Regions from separate parts of the Homo sapiens genome. Here region 2 is linked to region 1. Evidence: fine-mapped expression QTL. Tissue or cell type: lung. Region 1 holds a variant in brackets; the other region holds the start of a gene. All regions are shown on one strand. Distances are between the middles of the regions.

The links. PIP is the estimated chance that this variant, and not a neighbour inherited with it, causes the effect.
Region 2: it holds the start of HAPLN1, and the variant in region 1 is fine-mapped to the expression of HAPLN1 in lung (TOPMed, PIP 0.92).

The regions. Positions count from the first base shown.
Region 1 is chr5:83,669,210-83,677,398 of GRCh38, reverse strand. HAPLN1 (hyaluronan and proteoglycan link protein 1) reads left to right here. Exons shown (of 5, transcript NM_001884.4): 2 at 3,850-3,975. The coding sequence starts at 3,876. Among named protein-coding and RNA genes, the nearest start is that of HAPLN1, 48 kb to the left of the region's middle. The variant G/T (reference allele first, on the strand shown) is at 3,662.
Region 2 is chr5:83,717,476-83,725,664 of GRCh38, reverse strand. It overlaps HAPLN1 (hyaluronan and proteoglycan link protein 1), which reads left to right and starts at 4,810. Exons shown (of 5, transcript NM_001884.4): 1 at 4,810-4,876. RefSeq lists a silencer at 3,166-3,225.

The sequences.
Region 1 (8,189 bases):
AAAGGAGGTGCAAGACTGGCTAAGAGAGAGCCGACAGCACTCGTCAGGGGACCCACGACAATGGTAATGGTAGTTGGGAATGCGTCTCTGGGGTAACACTGCCCAGACTACCAGCTCCTTGTTGTACATGCTGGGTACCTCACCACCCTAAGACTCCACTTCTAGAGCTGTAAAATGTGTCTAACAACATACTTACCTCAATTGAGTTGTTCTGAGAAATGGCAGTTCAGGAAATATGTAGTGTTAGCTCTCAAGGCACATGAAGTAGCACACATGCCTTTCACTTGGTTTGATCTCCCCATTACCTAATATGATAATGATAATGTAGTAGACACTTAAGAAATAGCAGTTGACCATCTTGGTATTAGACTGTTGATATTAGTATATCTGCATTTCTATCAAACTATTACTCTTTCACATTGGATAAGGTATATTGCTTCCAAATCATGCTTCAATTATCAACAAAGCAGGACTGTAAAATTACATTCCTATTATCTGTCTTTGACTATGAACATAGACATTTCAGTTTGGATTCATCTTGAAGCTGGCTGATCGAGCATTAAGATTTGTAAGGCTGTGAAAAGAGACCTTCAATGTGTGAATTGCAGGTGAACTGAGAGCACTAATTCAGGAGTTGATAATAGCTGGTTGTGGAAAAGTCTCCCCGATTGTCTAAATTTTAGCTCATATCAAAAACTGCAAATTTTTACCTAACATACCTAGACATTAAGAGGAGGCATGATTACAAAATGCAAACAAGCAGGACTCAGATTTATTTACTCACATGACCACCTACTATGTCTGAGGTGTCCTTTTCTACTGGGACCAGCACTTAGACCCGTGGCACAGCCCTTGACCTCAATGACCTCAGTCTGGTGTGCAGCACCTTGTTTTATATAGCTTATTGCTCAGACACCTGAAGACTGTGACCCTAAAGTATACTTTTCTAGTTTCATGTCTACTGGTGAGATGGTTGTTGTGCTTACCAGAGTAACAAAGATAATTTCCATTCTCACCTCCCTGGATTGTATTGAATCCAGCACAGGGTACTCTAAAGTATTCACTGATAGAGGCCTCTAATCACAAGTTACTGCAGATGTCCAATATACTTGAATTTTTCAAAGATGGTATGTATCTATCTTTCTGTGTGTGCGTATCTCTGTGTATGTGTGCGTATCTCTGTGTATGTGTGCGTATCTCTGTATATGTGTGCGTATCTCTGTGTATGTGTGCATATCTCTGTGTATGTGTGCACACATGTGAACCACCAAGACTTTGTTCATGGTACCAGAGTGATATAATTAATGAGGCAGGGCAAATCATGTTAAGAAAAATACCACCTGACTGCCTTCTCAATATGTAAGTCTTGGGAAAAATGTTTATATTCATATATAACACAAGTCAAAGTCTTAAGATCATAGTTGTAAGTTAAAGAGCTTGAATTTAAAAAGGCAACAAAAGACATAACAAATTAAATTTGCTTGAAGGCAAATACAGACTTTGCCACTTACTAGATGTGTACCTTCCAGCAAGATTACTGTCTGTATCCCAAGAAATGGAAATATTTGTCTCACATTATTGTTCTAAGGAATCCATGAGCCATTGCAGACAAAATGCTGCTTATAGTGCTGGCGAACAGTAGACATTCCATGAAAGGTGTTTTTATCATTGTTTATTCCCCATACTCCCTCACAAGCACTCAAGACGTTTACAATTTTAAATTAGGTTGTTGGATAGTCAGTACTTTAACACATTGGAATGAACCCTTAGTAGTATAATTTTAAATACTATGGTATGGAACTAAAGGAGATACATAGATAGATGTGTCATATATTTTTAAGACGAATGAAATTCAAGATGGTTGCAGTGGTAGGATAAACAACTCTAACCTAGTGTGTGTATCATATACAGCTCCCTATAAATTACACTATACATGACCACACTAACGTGAACATTAATTTAGCAAACTCTCCACCTTTGCTCATCTTGACTCCTCATCTAGAATGTCTCCTGTGTTTGATTGTTAAATTATACACCTTCTTTATACTCTCTCCTCCACAGCGCCCCTTCTCTGATTCCTGTAAACAAGCAGAGAGCACATCACAACTCTGGTACTGTTTGTCTGTTGTTTCATATTTGTGTTTACAGTTATCTCAATTATATTCCAAATTCCAAAAGGCCACCTTTATATTTGTTCACCCAAAGCACAATCCTGGGCTGAAAATAGGTAATATTTTAAACTGTAATTTTGTGGACAAAAGTTAGTGACTACAAACAACCAACAACAACAACAAAAATAAGCATTTCAAAAAAGTTCTTAGAGGAACAAGGAAGTGAACTTCTGAAAATAAGACTAGTAAATCAGGTAGAATTTTGAAGCTAACATTCTTGGTTTCCTTGACAAATAAATTTCACAATTTGTTTGCTTATCTACCATCTTCTTTATGTGATATAATGAAGAAAAAGAAAAGATTTAAAGCAAACGTGAAAGACTAAAGCCATCAGCATCACAGTAGTGCAAATCTTCACAGGGGAAAATACAGAGACATGTTTCAGTCTCAGAAGAGACTTGGGGACCTTCTGTGAATAAGTGAATTAGGTTCTGGAGTAGAGGCTCTCCTACAAGGACCTCCAGGAACAGACTCAGAGCTCTTTAATAAGTATCCCAGGGAGTCAGGCTTTCTTGGAAAAAACAAATTAGTGTGAGAAGCCAGTACTGTGCAATTTCAGTTTTAAAAATAGCCGGTATTGTCAAGGCTGCTGTGTGCATGAGAGAAATAGAAGGTCCTTGTTAATTTTCGTGTCAGCTTCCACATTAAAACCAAGAAGCTCCACTGAAATCCTTGCCTGGCAAATACTGCAAAGGTTATAAGGTTCGTATCACTTAGAATCACTTTTGGTTCTTCCAATGACAAACTTTTGGGAGGGAAGAGGTTATGTCCCCTTTTATCACATTGGTCTTTCAATAAAGGACAGGCAAGTGATGGCTCTGCCTTTTTCACTTAGGACCAGATCTGTGCCTCCCTGTCTGTTTCAGCTTTTCATTTGCCTAATTGCCCTGGGAGGCTGGCAGGGACGTTCCCTGCAGCCGTGGATCCGCTGACTGCAGAGACCCTACCTGGCACTCTAAGTTGGTGCGTCAGCATTTTAGGTTGAAATGAATGAAAAATCAATCAGGATGACTGCAGTGGTAGCGTGCACAACTCTAACCTAGTTTGTTCATAATTTTCAACTATTCACCGTAGACCCAAGCAGTATGTAAGATGGTAAGTGAATCTGTAACAAATGTGCTGCTTCTGCTTAATCGGGCACTTTTTTTTGGTCCTCTTTTCTATTTGGAACAAGCAAGTCTAACCTTCTTAGGAAGCCACATGTAAAATGAATGACGATGTCAAGTTTCATGCAAATATTATTTGCCCTGGCTTTAGATTCACTTTCTAATTAGACCAAGTGATACTCATATACAGACATAACACATTGCTGTTTTATTAACTTATGTTGCAAATTCAGAGGCTTACATTTTTTTAAGAGTGTGTATGTTTTTGCCACATCTCTTTGTTACTTGCTGTAATTCTCTATCCAAACTACAGTGTTTTAAATTTCTAGATTTACAATTCTGCAAAGATAGAGTTAAACACTATTTGGACTCTGGCTACATGAT[G/T]GTAGCAGGAATTGTTCAAAGCTGCCGTCTTCGGCTCTTAAAGGCAGCTACAGTAACTTTCTGAACAGATTGGGTTAAATATTTTTACAGACCCATTCTATGATGATAAGGCGGTAATAAGTTGTGCAGTGCAACACTCCAAAGGGTTCCAAATCTCACAAGCCTCTTTGTATGTGATGCTCTCGCAGTGAAGAAGATTCTTTGGGCTATAAAGATGAAGAGTCTACTTCTTCTGGTGCTGATTTCAATCTGCTGGGCTGATCATCTTTCAGACAACTATACTCTGGATCATGACAGAGCTATTCACATCCAAGGTAAGGAAACACAGCTTCTCTTATCAAAGCCTAATTAATTTTAAGTTACTTAGAGTTGAGATGCTGGGCTAGTGTTTCTTAATTTTAGTTCTGCTGCATTGACTTTTTCTTTCCCTTTCTGCTAATTGGTGAACGTGTTCCCTGGCTTTTAAACACTATTGCATTACAGTAGAGTTAAGAATTGGGGACAATTAAAGTTGAGTAGCTTAAGAATGTCCAGCTGCAGTGAGTTGGTATAATCGTTCAAGGCTGTTAAGTGCAGTTGCTATCTTCAAGTAAAATGGAGGCCATAAAGTTCATTTAAATGCAAGTCAGAGAGAGAAAATAGGAAGTAAAACTTAGGATATAAGGTCATTCTGTTAGAGTAACTGTTTAATCATTAAGAGAAACAATATAAATAAAATGAAAATTAGACAAGCTATTGTCCAGGAAAAAGTAGTTTACCCTATTATAATCTGCTTCAGTTAAGCTTTAGCTCCTATAGACCAATACATTGCCCCTGCACATTTCTGTTCAGCTCAGCTGATTCCTAAGCCTGAGAGCTGTAGCAGGATTTGAGGCTGCAGTACAATGCAGCTATTTCCTCAGTCCCAGCTTCAGATGAGGGACATCCTGCATTAAGAAAGCTGAGACTTATGCAATAAGAGGAACAGTTCTTTCCTTGCCCTTGGATGCTGAATAATTAAAAAAGGAATTATAGAACTTAACAGTTTAAGCAGATGATGATAATTTTAGATAAACTCCATTGGGGTACCAGAGGCATGATAAGTTTGCTAAGAGACATAAAACTCTAAGTTACATCTTCAAGGTCAAAAGCGTAGCCTCAGTAAACTGCATTCACTGTGAAAAGTATGACTTGTGAAGGTCAAATGATAGTGTAAATCTGTCTAGAAGTATTTTCCTGTACGTATTATGACTACCAAAATAGAATTCTGAATTTGTCTATGTCTAGCTATTTTAGACACATCTCTTTTAGTTTTGTTTGCTTCCAACAGCTTTATTTTTTTCTCTGTTGAACTGAGAAAAGAAATTGTAATCATACATTTTACTCTGCAAGCTGCTGACTCAGCTGTTTCTGTAATATATAGTAGAATCAGAGCTGTTTCCCAAAGACCATATGATATTTACACATAGAGATTTCTAATGAGGAATAATACCCTTTTACCTTCTAGTGACAGAATTCTAGTGACAGAATTCAATTCAGCCAAAATAGTAATACCTAGTCGTTATTAATAATACCAGTTTTATACCCAATGCAATAGAAACTTAAGCCATGGTTTCAAGTTATTAGATGACAGATACCAAAGTTGTATTATGAATTGTGTACAAACCATTTAATGAAAATTGCACTCAGAGTATGAGAATAGTGTTTTAAAAATGTACTAACATTTGAAAAATTACTCCTATAAGTCAGACTCAAGTTATCTCAGGAAGGAAAACTTCTGTTACTCCAGCCTTTCCATTCCCATCTCCTCTGTTGAAACTTAGTGCAAGGGGATTTCTGACCCAGAGTATCAGGATTATCCAGATTATTTGCATACACTGTCCACATTTTTAAAAAGGCTTGATAGTCCACTTCATTTTAATTGTAAATTCATATTCTTAGAAAGTGCAGGCTTGCCTCGAAGAGTTGCTAAAGAGCTTTCAAGTAATAGAACTATATTTGGCTTGTGGAAATTTAATGCTGAAATGTGATTTGGGTCATAGGATTATGATGTTATGCCCGTAAATGAAATACCTGTTCTCATTACTTTTTTCCCAACAATTTTTTTGTGATAGCATTCAGATTGAATTTTCAAATCCCATAGTTCTTCAGAGAAACTGCTTCCAAGTGACCTTCCATAATTCCAGCTGTTTTTTATAATGCAAAAATAAATCAGGTAGCACAAGAATCAACAAAGCAGATTACTTACTTGCTTCGTTACTTACTTGAAATACTGCATATTTTCTTATATTTAAAACTTTTATTTATCAAACATAGCCCAGAAGGAATTTTAGGGAGCTGAAATCCTCACAAATTTTTTGAAGAATTTAGTCAGATGATTAAATTAGCTATCTCAATCTCAGATTCTTGAATGGTACTGATAAGCAGTATGAGCTTCTGTTAGTGATGGAAAATAGTTGAAAATTCACGTTGCTGTAAAAATATCATTACTCTCTCCTATTTTTGATTAGATTTCTATTTTTGTACTCCAAGTTCCCAAGGTCTGAACAACATTGGGAAAATTGTGCAAATCAGCCTCAACTTTTTGTTGGCTGCCTTGATGCAGAAGCTCAACATTTTAATGATACATTTTTGAGTTCCATGTGTATGGGTTAGCTAATTGTTTTTCTGAAGCCTCCTCATAATTTTGTTGTGGGAGGTTTTATAGAGATATAGACACACACAAAAAAGTTTAATCTGGATATTAAAAAAGAAAGAAAGAAAGAAAGCCAGGCATGGTGGCTCATACCTGTAATCCCAGCACTTTGGGAGGCCGAGGCGGGTGGATCACGAGGTCAGGGGTTTGAGACCAGCCTGACCAACATGGTGAAACCCCGTCTCTACTAAAAATACAAAAATTAGCCGGGCGTGGTGGCAGGTGCCTGTAATCCCAGCTACTCAGGAGGCTGAGGCAGGAGAATTGCCTGAACCCGGGAAGCAGAGGTTGCAGTGAGCCGAGATGGTGCCACTGCACTCCAGCCTGGGCAACAGAGCGAGACTCCATCACACACACACACACACACACACACAAAACAAAGGTAAAAAGGCAGATGGCCAGGAAAGAAAATAGCAAGTGTAGACCCCTATGCAAGGTATTTCTAGTGAAAAACATTTCTCTGGTAATGAGAAAGAAATCTCTCCCAGCTTCCCATGGAAAAAGACTTAGCTTTAGATAAAAATTTCACACACACTAATCCATTTCCTTTAATTTTTCATTGAAATAATTTGATCATACAGGAAAGCAAACTTCATTTGTCCACAAAGTCTACTAAAAATATGCAATCAAGATATTAGCTTGTATATAACATACTGTCCTCAATGTAGGCAATAGTTATGTTCTCAAATACCTCTACAGGAAGAGGGGCCACTGTTAATATCCTCTCTATACACTAAACTAATGGATTTTGTTCCTCATGTCACAATGTGGCTACTTTACTTTACTTTTAAATCCTTTGAAACTTGAGACCATTAGGAAGAGTTTTACATGGAGTATCAAATCACACAGAAAGAATAATATTTATAATATTTGTATCAGGTCCAAAAACTTTTGTGTAGCCTTTCAACTACCATAGAATTTTAGAGATGATGAATACACTCTTCAAAATACAACTTTTTAGAAGACATTTACAGATAACAGAGAAATTTTATGACCATTTGCCTATTAACCAATATGCAAAGCAAAATAGATGAACATGTAACTACTTGACCTTATCAAGGTCAGAGTCAGTGCTTCCTGCATTTGGTGTTCAAGCAGAGGTCTTCTGATGACAAGTTTCAGTCTTTCCTGTAATGCCACTAACTAGCTTAGACCTTGGAAAATTTACTTAATCTCTCCAAATCCCAGTTACCCCTCTGTAAAATCAGACCTAATGCCTGCTTATTCAATAGAGCTTTGTGAGAATTAAATGAGATAATATGTGGAAAGTGCTTAGTACAGTGCCTGGTTCCCAAGAGCCAATACTTATCCAGGTGGTTGTTATCATTATGTTTATTGCTTCCTCCCTGTTATGGAAAATTGATTTTTAAATAGAAAACAGACTACAAATACTGGTCAAAAAAATTCATGCTTTTCAAAGTACATTTGTTAACAGAACATATCATCACCTTAATTCTAATAAAGTAAACATTTTATAAGTTCTTTTCTTTGCCTTCTTTAATTTCACAATTTAAAATGTCCCCATTCATATTATTACTTTAATTTTTATTTATTTATTTATTTTTGAGACGGAGTCTTGCTCTCTCGCCCAGGCTGGAGTACAATGGCTCAATCTTGGCTCACTGCAACCTCTGCCTCCCAGGTTCAAGAGATTCTCCTACCTCAGCCTCCTAAGTAGCTGGGATTACAGGTGCCTGCCACAGTGCCCTGCTACTCTTTGTATTTTTAGTAGCAGCGGGGTTTTGCAATGTTGGCCAGGCTGGTAATTCCTGACCTCAGGTGATCAGCCCACATCAGCCTCCCAAAGTGTTAGAATTACAGGTGTGAGCCACCACGCCCAGCCTCCCCAGTCAC
Region 2 (8,189 bases), 48 kb before region 1:
AATTCAATAGACCAACATAGGGACAAGCAGGCGCTTACTTCTTAGGAGCCAAGGATATTTATCACTTGGTATGATGGACTCATTTGGCCTCAGTAGCTTCTGGAACAGCTCTGCTCTTAACATTTGAACAATTTATTGCCTAATTATTTAGCATGCCCTTTTGAAGAGTCTGTCTGCTGGACACTTTCTGAGAGTGAGCACAAAAAGTGGGCTCTTGGAAAGTCATCCCTCCCCCTCATTGCATTAAAAGCAAAATAACCTTTTATCAAATGCTTTGTGACCATTTAGAATATTGAATTTGTATTTTAATCATCGAGTTCAACAGGAATATAGCCAGTGGGAAGGACTTAATTACAAATGGTGTCTTTCTCATGGCTATGCCCACAATCCCAGGAGGTGCTTTAATGAAGTTCTGAGCCCTCAGACAGGAAAGGTCAAATGGCTTTCCTCCCCCCAGTACCTCCAAAGTGCACGAAGCTGAACCTTTATCCTAGCAGATGTTCAATCAGATATAATGTCAGCCTGAGGCAAAAATTCCAGGAAACAAGTGCTCAGAGGGAAGCAATTCTCTGGAATTTAGTGGATAACAGCAGCCTCTTTTGGAGTTTGAAGAGGAGATGAATTTAGATAATCCCCTTTTGAATATAAATGTATATTTTGTTACGAGTGTAATATGCCAGCAGGCATACTATTCTGCTTGGGAATTTATTACATATTAAATATTCATGATATTGCAGATCAATATTTTTTTAAAAGTTGAAAATGTTCCTGCTACACTTATGCTACACACATATTCAAATTTGTATAAGGTGAAACCAGCTGAAATTGCTTTTTGGTAGGTCAAAAAAGGTTGAATATTCCATTTTATCTGGTTCAACCTAATTACTCAAATTGTGTTACAATTAGCAAAAGAATGCAAAGTTACATTTTATAACACCATTTTTTAACCTGTTTTTCATTCTTATAAAATACTGTTGTATTACATTAAACATCATTTCAAAATATGCTGTATATATTATATATAGAATATTTTGATATATAATTTTATATAATATAAATACATCAGCATATTTTGAAATAATATTGTTTAACATCAGATTATTTAATAAGAATGAGAAATAGTTCAAAATATATTATTGAAAAATAAAAAAAAGTTTGGTTTTTCTTGAAACTTAAAAAAATGGCTTATTTGCCTTCTCTAAATTAAAAAAGCAAATAAAACAAACCTCAATATGCTATGTGTTAGGGAAAAAAAAAACTTTAGCAAAACTAAATTTAAAAGAGTTTGATTAAGCAAAGAACAATTCCAACAGTCTCCAGAGGCAGAGCAGGCTCAGAAACTCCAACACAGCCACGTGGTAGAAGGTTTATGGGCAGAAAAAGGAAAGTGAGGTACAGAAACCCCCGGACTGGTTATAGCTCCACCTTTGCCTTATTTGAACAGGGTTTGAACAGTTGGCCACATGTGATTGGCCAAAGCTCAGTGTTGCCACAAGAGCAGGCTACAGTCTGTTTACAATTCCATTCAGGTTATAGTTCACAATGTACAGAGAAACCTTTAGGCCAAACTTAAAATATGTAAGAAGACAGCTTTAGGCTAACCTTGATTTAACAAAGGAAAGATTTGAATTTCCACATGACTTACTAATGTTAATAAATACAGGAAATCTTCAAATACAGAATACTTTTTTGATATGGTTTTCTTTAAGAAGATATTTTGGTCTTCAAAAATTATTTTTACAATTTATATCTTTGTAAAATATTTAGTCATGAAAATAGAGTTGTATTTATTCCTGCATTTACTTGATTTGATTTTTTACCATGGCTTATTATAATGCCTGTGCCCTGATGAAAAACTATAAGGGCTAATCAAAGTAATGTATGCCTCCATAAAGCACAATTTGGCTGAACATTAATTAACTGAACATAAAAATCTTTTTAAAAGACTCTTAAAGCTAATTCCAATGTAAATTTAAATAACTAGAAAACCATGTGAACCCCAAAACGAATGGAAAAATGTATATAACGTCAATTAAATTAAGCCTGAATAACACTTCAAATACACACTATTGATAGGTTAAATATTTGTGATTAAAAAGACTGGGGATCTTTAACAAAGACTAGTAAGGAGGCAATGGGGAAGGGAAGGCTGGAAATAGGGGAGGATCAGGAGGGACAGGATGACTCAGAGGTAAGTACCTGTCATTATTTCTGGAAGTCTATCTCAATAGTTGCGGCTATACCTGAGATTGAAAAAAAATCTAGTGTAGCTCACCATGGTGTGACTAAGTTGCAAAATAGATTGTCTTGGGTGGTTATTAAACAATTTCAGAAGAGAATACATTAAATTATCTTAATGTTGTGCCGGAATAAGTGTATAGAGCAGACCACAAAATAGGGGAACAAGTGCCAGCCATGAGCCAGCTGATTTGATTTACGCTCCAGGCAATCGCCAGAAATTAGGTTGTTAAGCTGAGGGAACAAGATCGGTATTTAAACTGTCTTTATATGATATCATAGCCACACACCACCAGCCTTACCACCTTTATGGTGCTTTAATATAAAAATTGGATATTTGTTTATAAGTCTAATTCGTTTATGTTCTTTAAAATACACACCACCCTGAACGTTTACAAGAAATATGAATAGCATAAAAACCCTTTGCATAGTTGAAAAGCCGAGATGTATCTTATTTTTATTGGCAGTTAATGTAGAGGCCTATATAACAGCTGCCTCAATAGCCACTAGATTAGGGACATAAAACTGCAAAACCTGTTCCCTGTGCGGGAGGGGAAACAGAAAAATAAGAGAAGCGCCCTCACCCAGGTTTTGGAATTCCAAGAAAGGTGTTGAACGCCTGATGAAGAATTCATTTTGAATATAACTGTCTTCATTTAGGGAGGGTGTGTGAGTGTTCCGTTTGTCTTTGAAATGAAACCTTTCCAAGAGGCACGTGTTGATTTACCAAAGACAGAATGGCAAGGGGGAGCCCAGAGGCAAGAACTGGTGAAATCTCTCAGAAGACGCGGGAAGAAGCCTTTTTTCCCCTGCAATCTCTCCCGCCTCTCTCCAGAGTCCAGGAGGAGGCAGTCCCCGTGGCTTAGGCTTTATCTTTAAGACAATAGCGCCGCTCGCCGCCACCCGCGCGACTCGGATCGGGCATCCCGGCGGCCGCACCCCGCGCGCTGGCTCATCTGCACACCGGCCACCTGCATTGTCGGCCAGAGCCCCCGTCCCGGCGGCTTCCCCAGCAGCTTGGCTGCCCCTCAGGTCCTCCCATCCCACCTTGCACCTCCAGGACGCCCTGGACCCGCCCATCCTCCTGCCCCACTAGCTCATCGACTTACGACTCCCTCAGTCCCTACGGCCCACGGAACCCTCTCCCCAACCCGCGCCACAGCCCGAGCGGCGGCGGCGGCCTTAAGAAGCCCGCAGTCCCGCCCGCGCCGCCCCGCCGGGGCCGGAGGTTGGAGCCGGGAGCACGGCCGCGAATCCCCGCACGTCCCCAGCGCTCCGCGACACCGGGCCCTGCTCGCTGCAACTCGGGGACGGCCTGCGTCTCGCCTCCACCCTGGCCGCGGGCCCCTCGAGCTTGTTTGCTTGTCCTCAGTCCCAGGGCCAGCCCCGCTCCCTCCTCCCGGCTGCTCCAACAGCCGTTTGCTTCCTGCGGTGTGTTTCTTTTTTCCCCTTCCTAGACTCCATCAAAGGTGGCTCTGTTATTGAAATATGAAGCCATTTCCTCTCCAAAACCCTTGGTTACTCAAGGCGGGAATCAATGGACCTATATACTCTCCCAGAAGTTATAAATAAACGTCTATTTGTTCAGGAGGCGTTTTCCCGCGTGTCCCAGCATCTTCCCCACTGGTTATTTCAGGGGTGTGTGTGTCTGTGTGTGTGTGTGTGTGTGTGTGTGTGTGTGTGTGTGCGCGCGCGCGCCCTGTGCCCATCTGGTTCTAATCCTGGTTATGGATCCACAACCCAACCCCACCCATCCCGTCTCCCCCTCGCATTCCTCGTTCTATAAATAAATCCAGGTTCTTTGAGCTCTGTCATCCAAGGATACAATAGCAGTTGTTTGTTAAGAGAAATTTAAACTCAACACCAATACTGAGTCCAGTAAACCAGAAAATATGCTTCTGGTGATTTGGGTGGAAGGCCATCTCCAGTTTAAGAAGCTTTATGTGCCACTATCATCATTGTCTGTTATCCTTGATCTCCTTTGGTGAGGGGAAGGCGGGAAAGAGAGGACCTCTCCGACCCTTGGATTTTTCTTTTAAGCAGAGGCTAATAAAACAAAGCGCAAACTGACTGTCCTGAGGAGTCTGCTCACACCGCTGCCCCGCAGATCATTCCACAGACCCCTTGTCCCATCCCTTCTGGACAGACCCAGGACTGATGAGGGTTCGGGTTCGGGAGGTGTGGTGTGGTGGGGGCTTGTGTGGCTGTAGCGGCCGGCTTTCCTAAACCCCAGAGCGGGATACTCGGGATCTGAGCAGAGGGGAAAGTCATCTAAGAGGCTGCTGCTTTACAAGGTCTGGGCACAGAGCTGCCCCTCCCTTCCTCCCTGAAGTTTGCATGAAGTGCACATTAGGCTGTAATTAGGGGATTTGGGAGGAGAACTTTCCTGGTGACGCTTTGCTTTTCTTCTGCTCTTGGTGAGAAAGTGCCTCCTTCTTCCCAGGATCAGGACCTCTGCCATCCAGCGCCACAAAGAGACATTCTGCACACACACTCACACACGCACACACACACACACTCTCACACTCGCCCAGAGACAAACTTAAGGTGAGGAGAAAGAGCGCTAGCTTCACTTGATCTCCAGCTTCCAACTTAAGCAGAACTTGAGAGCATCCGAACTCCTGGATTTCAGGACAAGGTAAAACTTGCAAATTGTTTCCCCCTCTTTTGGTTATACCTTTGTGCCTTTAAGATTTCAGAGGGCAATACACATGCAATGTATATATACATTAAACAAATTTTATTCTTTTCTTTTGAGTTTAGTTTTCATTTGAATTTAATATGACACCTCAACTTTTAAAAAAGTTTCATATTGTCGGATAAAATATTTCACTACAATAAACAGGCTCAGTCTAAAAATGGAGAAAGAATTAACTCTAGTATCTTAGCTTCTGCTAGTGCTCCTGTAAATCTGGTAGGGTCATGGTTTCCAAGTGGTGACTTTTCTATCTGTATCTCAACAACCATTTTTATAGCACCTGAGATGAAACAAGGATAGTATAGGCTGAAGGGAAAGGTGAGGAATGGGAATGTCCAGCCAGGCTTATGAATTTTGTTTCAGAGAATATATAGGGTTATGTGAAAAAGAAAGTTACTTTAGGCATAGGTAATACCTGTTAGATTAATAATCTTAGAAATGTTGCCATTTTTGGCCCAGGCTTCCTTCTCCAGCTAATTATGAACTTAAGATCATAGAATGATGATGCATTTCATATATACAATGATGTTGATGGATAATTTGAATGCACTGAAGAGAATTTATAGTCATAGTTAAGATTACTGTTAAAAGTTGCTTAAAGAAATTATTTGTATGTTGAGACTGTTCCCCACCAAAAACAAACCTAAACTTGTTTGGGCTTCGATTAAGTAGTTTTCTTCCATTGAATGTGACTGTTGTGTTCAAAATAAGATGGCTTATTAATTTGAGAATAAGTTGCTTTATTTTCATTTATCACTGGAAAAATACACACAGTGGCCAGTACATTTGGGAATTTTTAGGGTGGAAAGTGTTCCTGTACATGTTCCAGTGTGATGTCATAAAATCAAACATACTGGCTGGCTTCTTGGAAGCTAATAGTTCTTAAGAAATTAAGGCTGTGGATTGATTTCTAAATGAATGTAATATTTATTCATTACAATTGTAGTTTCTGGTAACTATTTCTATGTGATTATTTCTGTGTACTAAATTTGCAGAGATTTTATACACATTTCAGTCATTTCAGTATTTTAATGGAATGGGAATATTGTTCTATCAAAAGTATATCATAGTAGTTATCTTTGGAGAATTTTTAATGTGATATGATTCATAATTCTTATATCAGTTAACAAATTCCATTTACCTACAAAAATGAAAGTTTCTCTTCCATTCAGTAAAATATAATGTATACCAAAGGACTCTTCAGATATTAGCTTTAGTCTTTAGTCACTTTTATACCACCCATTTTAAAAAATTTAATTGTTTCAGCTAAGAAATGAATTTATACTTTTGTTGATGACCTCTTCCACTAAATTGGAAACAGCTTAAAAACAGAACTAGATAAGAAGTAATTTTACTTAAGGCTAATTAAATGAACAAGAGATAACCAACAACCTCAACAGACCACTGCTCTACAGGAGGAATGTACCCAGAGGCCAGTATTCTCGACAGGAATGCCTTATGGGCCTGGGCTTTCTATGAGAAACAAGAAGGTGGGGAAACATTATGTACTTATTTATAAAATGAGCCATTTATTTTCAGCAAGGCCCTGTCTCTCAGAGGAATGACTGACACTGTAATTTAGAAGTACTGAAGAGACTTTCACAGAGAAGAATCAATTCATTATATCCCTAGTGGTTTCACTTCCTTTTCCTTCCTTTGGGAGCAAGTAACACATCCAGGATAAATACATTCAGAGTACACAGAAAGATACTTTATGAGTAAACGGTCTACTAAACAATCCTGCCTTTTAGCATCTTAGGTGTGGAATATTGGTATTTTCTGAACAGTTGAAGAAGTCCTTTGAATCTTAAGATAGCAATGCACTTCATCTTTGTAAAGATGAACAAAAGTTATATTCAGAAAATGACTCCCTTCCTTAGAAAATACTAGTTTTCTTTTTCATTTCTTTTTGCCCCATGCACATTTTATTTTTCAGATTGCATTTTTAAGATCATGATCTCTCACCAGTTAAAATTCTGACGAAATACCAGGCAAATTTGAAAATAATTTTGATAGTGCTTCAAATTAATTTTCTGACATCCTGCAGCCATGAGTAGTAACCATAGTACTTAGTCTATGTCATTTAAGTGTACTTAGCCTGTCATTTAAAGGTAGCAAAATGCTGTTGGAAGAAGTAGGAAAGGATGGAAACCTGAATATACTTAGGATTTTAATCAATAGTGTTTAAGGAGGATTAGAGGAAACAGCTGGTTAAACAATTATTAGGAGTAGAGAGGACGAGGTGGTATAAATTAATAATGCATCTCTTTATTTACACTGAATGGGAGGGTCTGTGGTGGTTAACTGTGTGAAGCATGGTCCCTGTGTGCCACCTAGTGGATAAGTCAAAGAAGGCTTTCTCACCGGCTTCTTAAAATACTCTGACTCCCTCGGTTGACGTTTGTTGAACATTAACTACACGCCAGACATTGGGATAGGTGCTCAGGGTAGAAACTAAAGCAAGTGATGTTTATATAAGTTAAAAATTAAGGTACAACTAAACAGTTTATGAAATCCCTACTGGTTGTATTTAAGATCACTTTACTCTTTGTTGGATACTTTACCATTAACTTTCCGCCTCCACAAGGATATAGCTTAATAACTGCAACTCACTTCTAATATAGGATTTGTTTTAGACAGACAGGTCATGGAATTGTTCAAGGACTGGTGGAAAGAGTTTGACCATCTTAAATCACTGTTCCTGAAATAGAAATAAATTTCTCTAAGGTTTAATGTTACTGAATTTAGTTGGGAAAATAACTACTAGCTTAAAAGGTTACCACACAGCTGCACATTTTGTTTCATATTCTTTGATTTTTTTATTAAATTGGAAAGGATAGTAGTACAAGTTGTTTTTGAGTAATGAGGTCTATTTTATAAAATATTGCTCTCAAACACTAATAATTAGCATGTAAAACAACTTCATCTATACTTGTTGTTCACTTGGAGTTTTGAAGCAGGAACCTGGCTTCCATGAAGTTGATCTAATAGAAAAAAAATTCTAGACAAAAACAATTACATGGAAAACCACCACTTGAAGGAAGCATTAAGATACCATAGAAGATTAGTCCATTTGAGTATTGCACTGAGAGCTTTAAAAACCTTTTCTTTAAAAGATATACGAATTATCACTCCAACTGGCTCTTTGCAAGTTATGTGACAATTGCAACAGTGATCAGGACAATCAGCATTAATCAATACAAGTTGTGAAATTCATATAGGAAGGTAAAATGCCTCAGTAGAAAAAAATGAT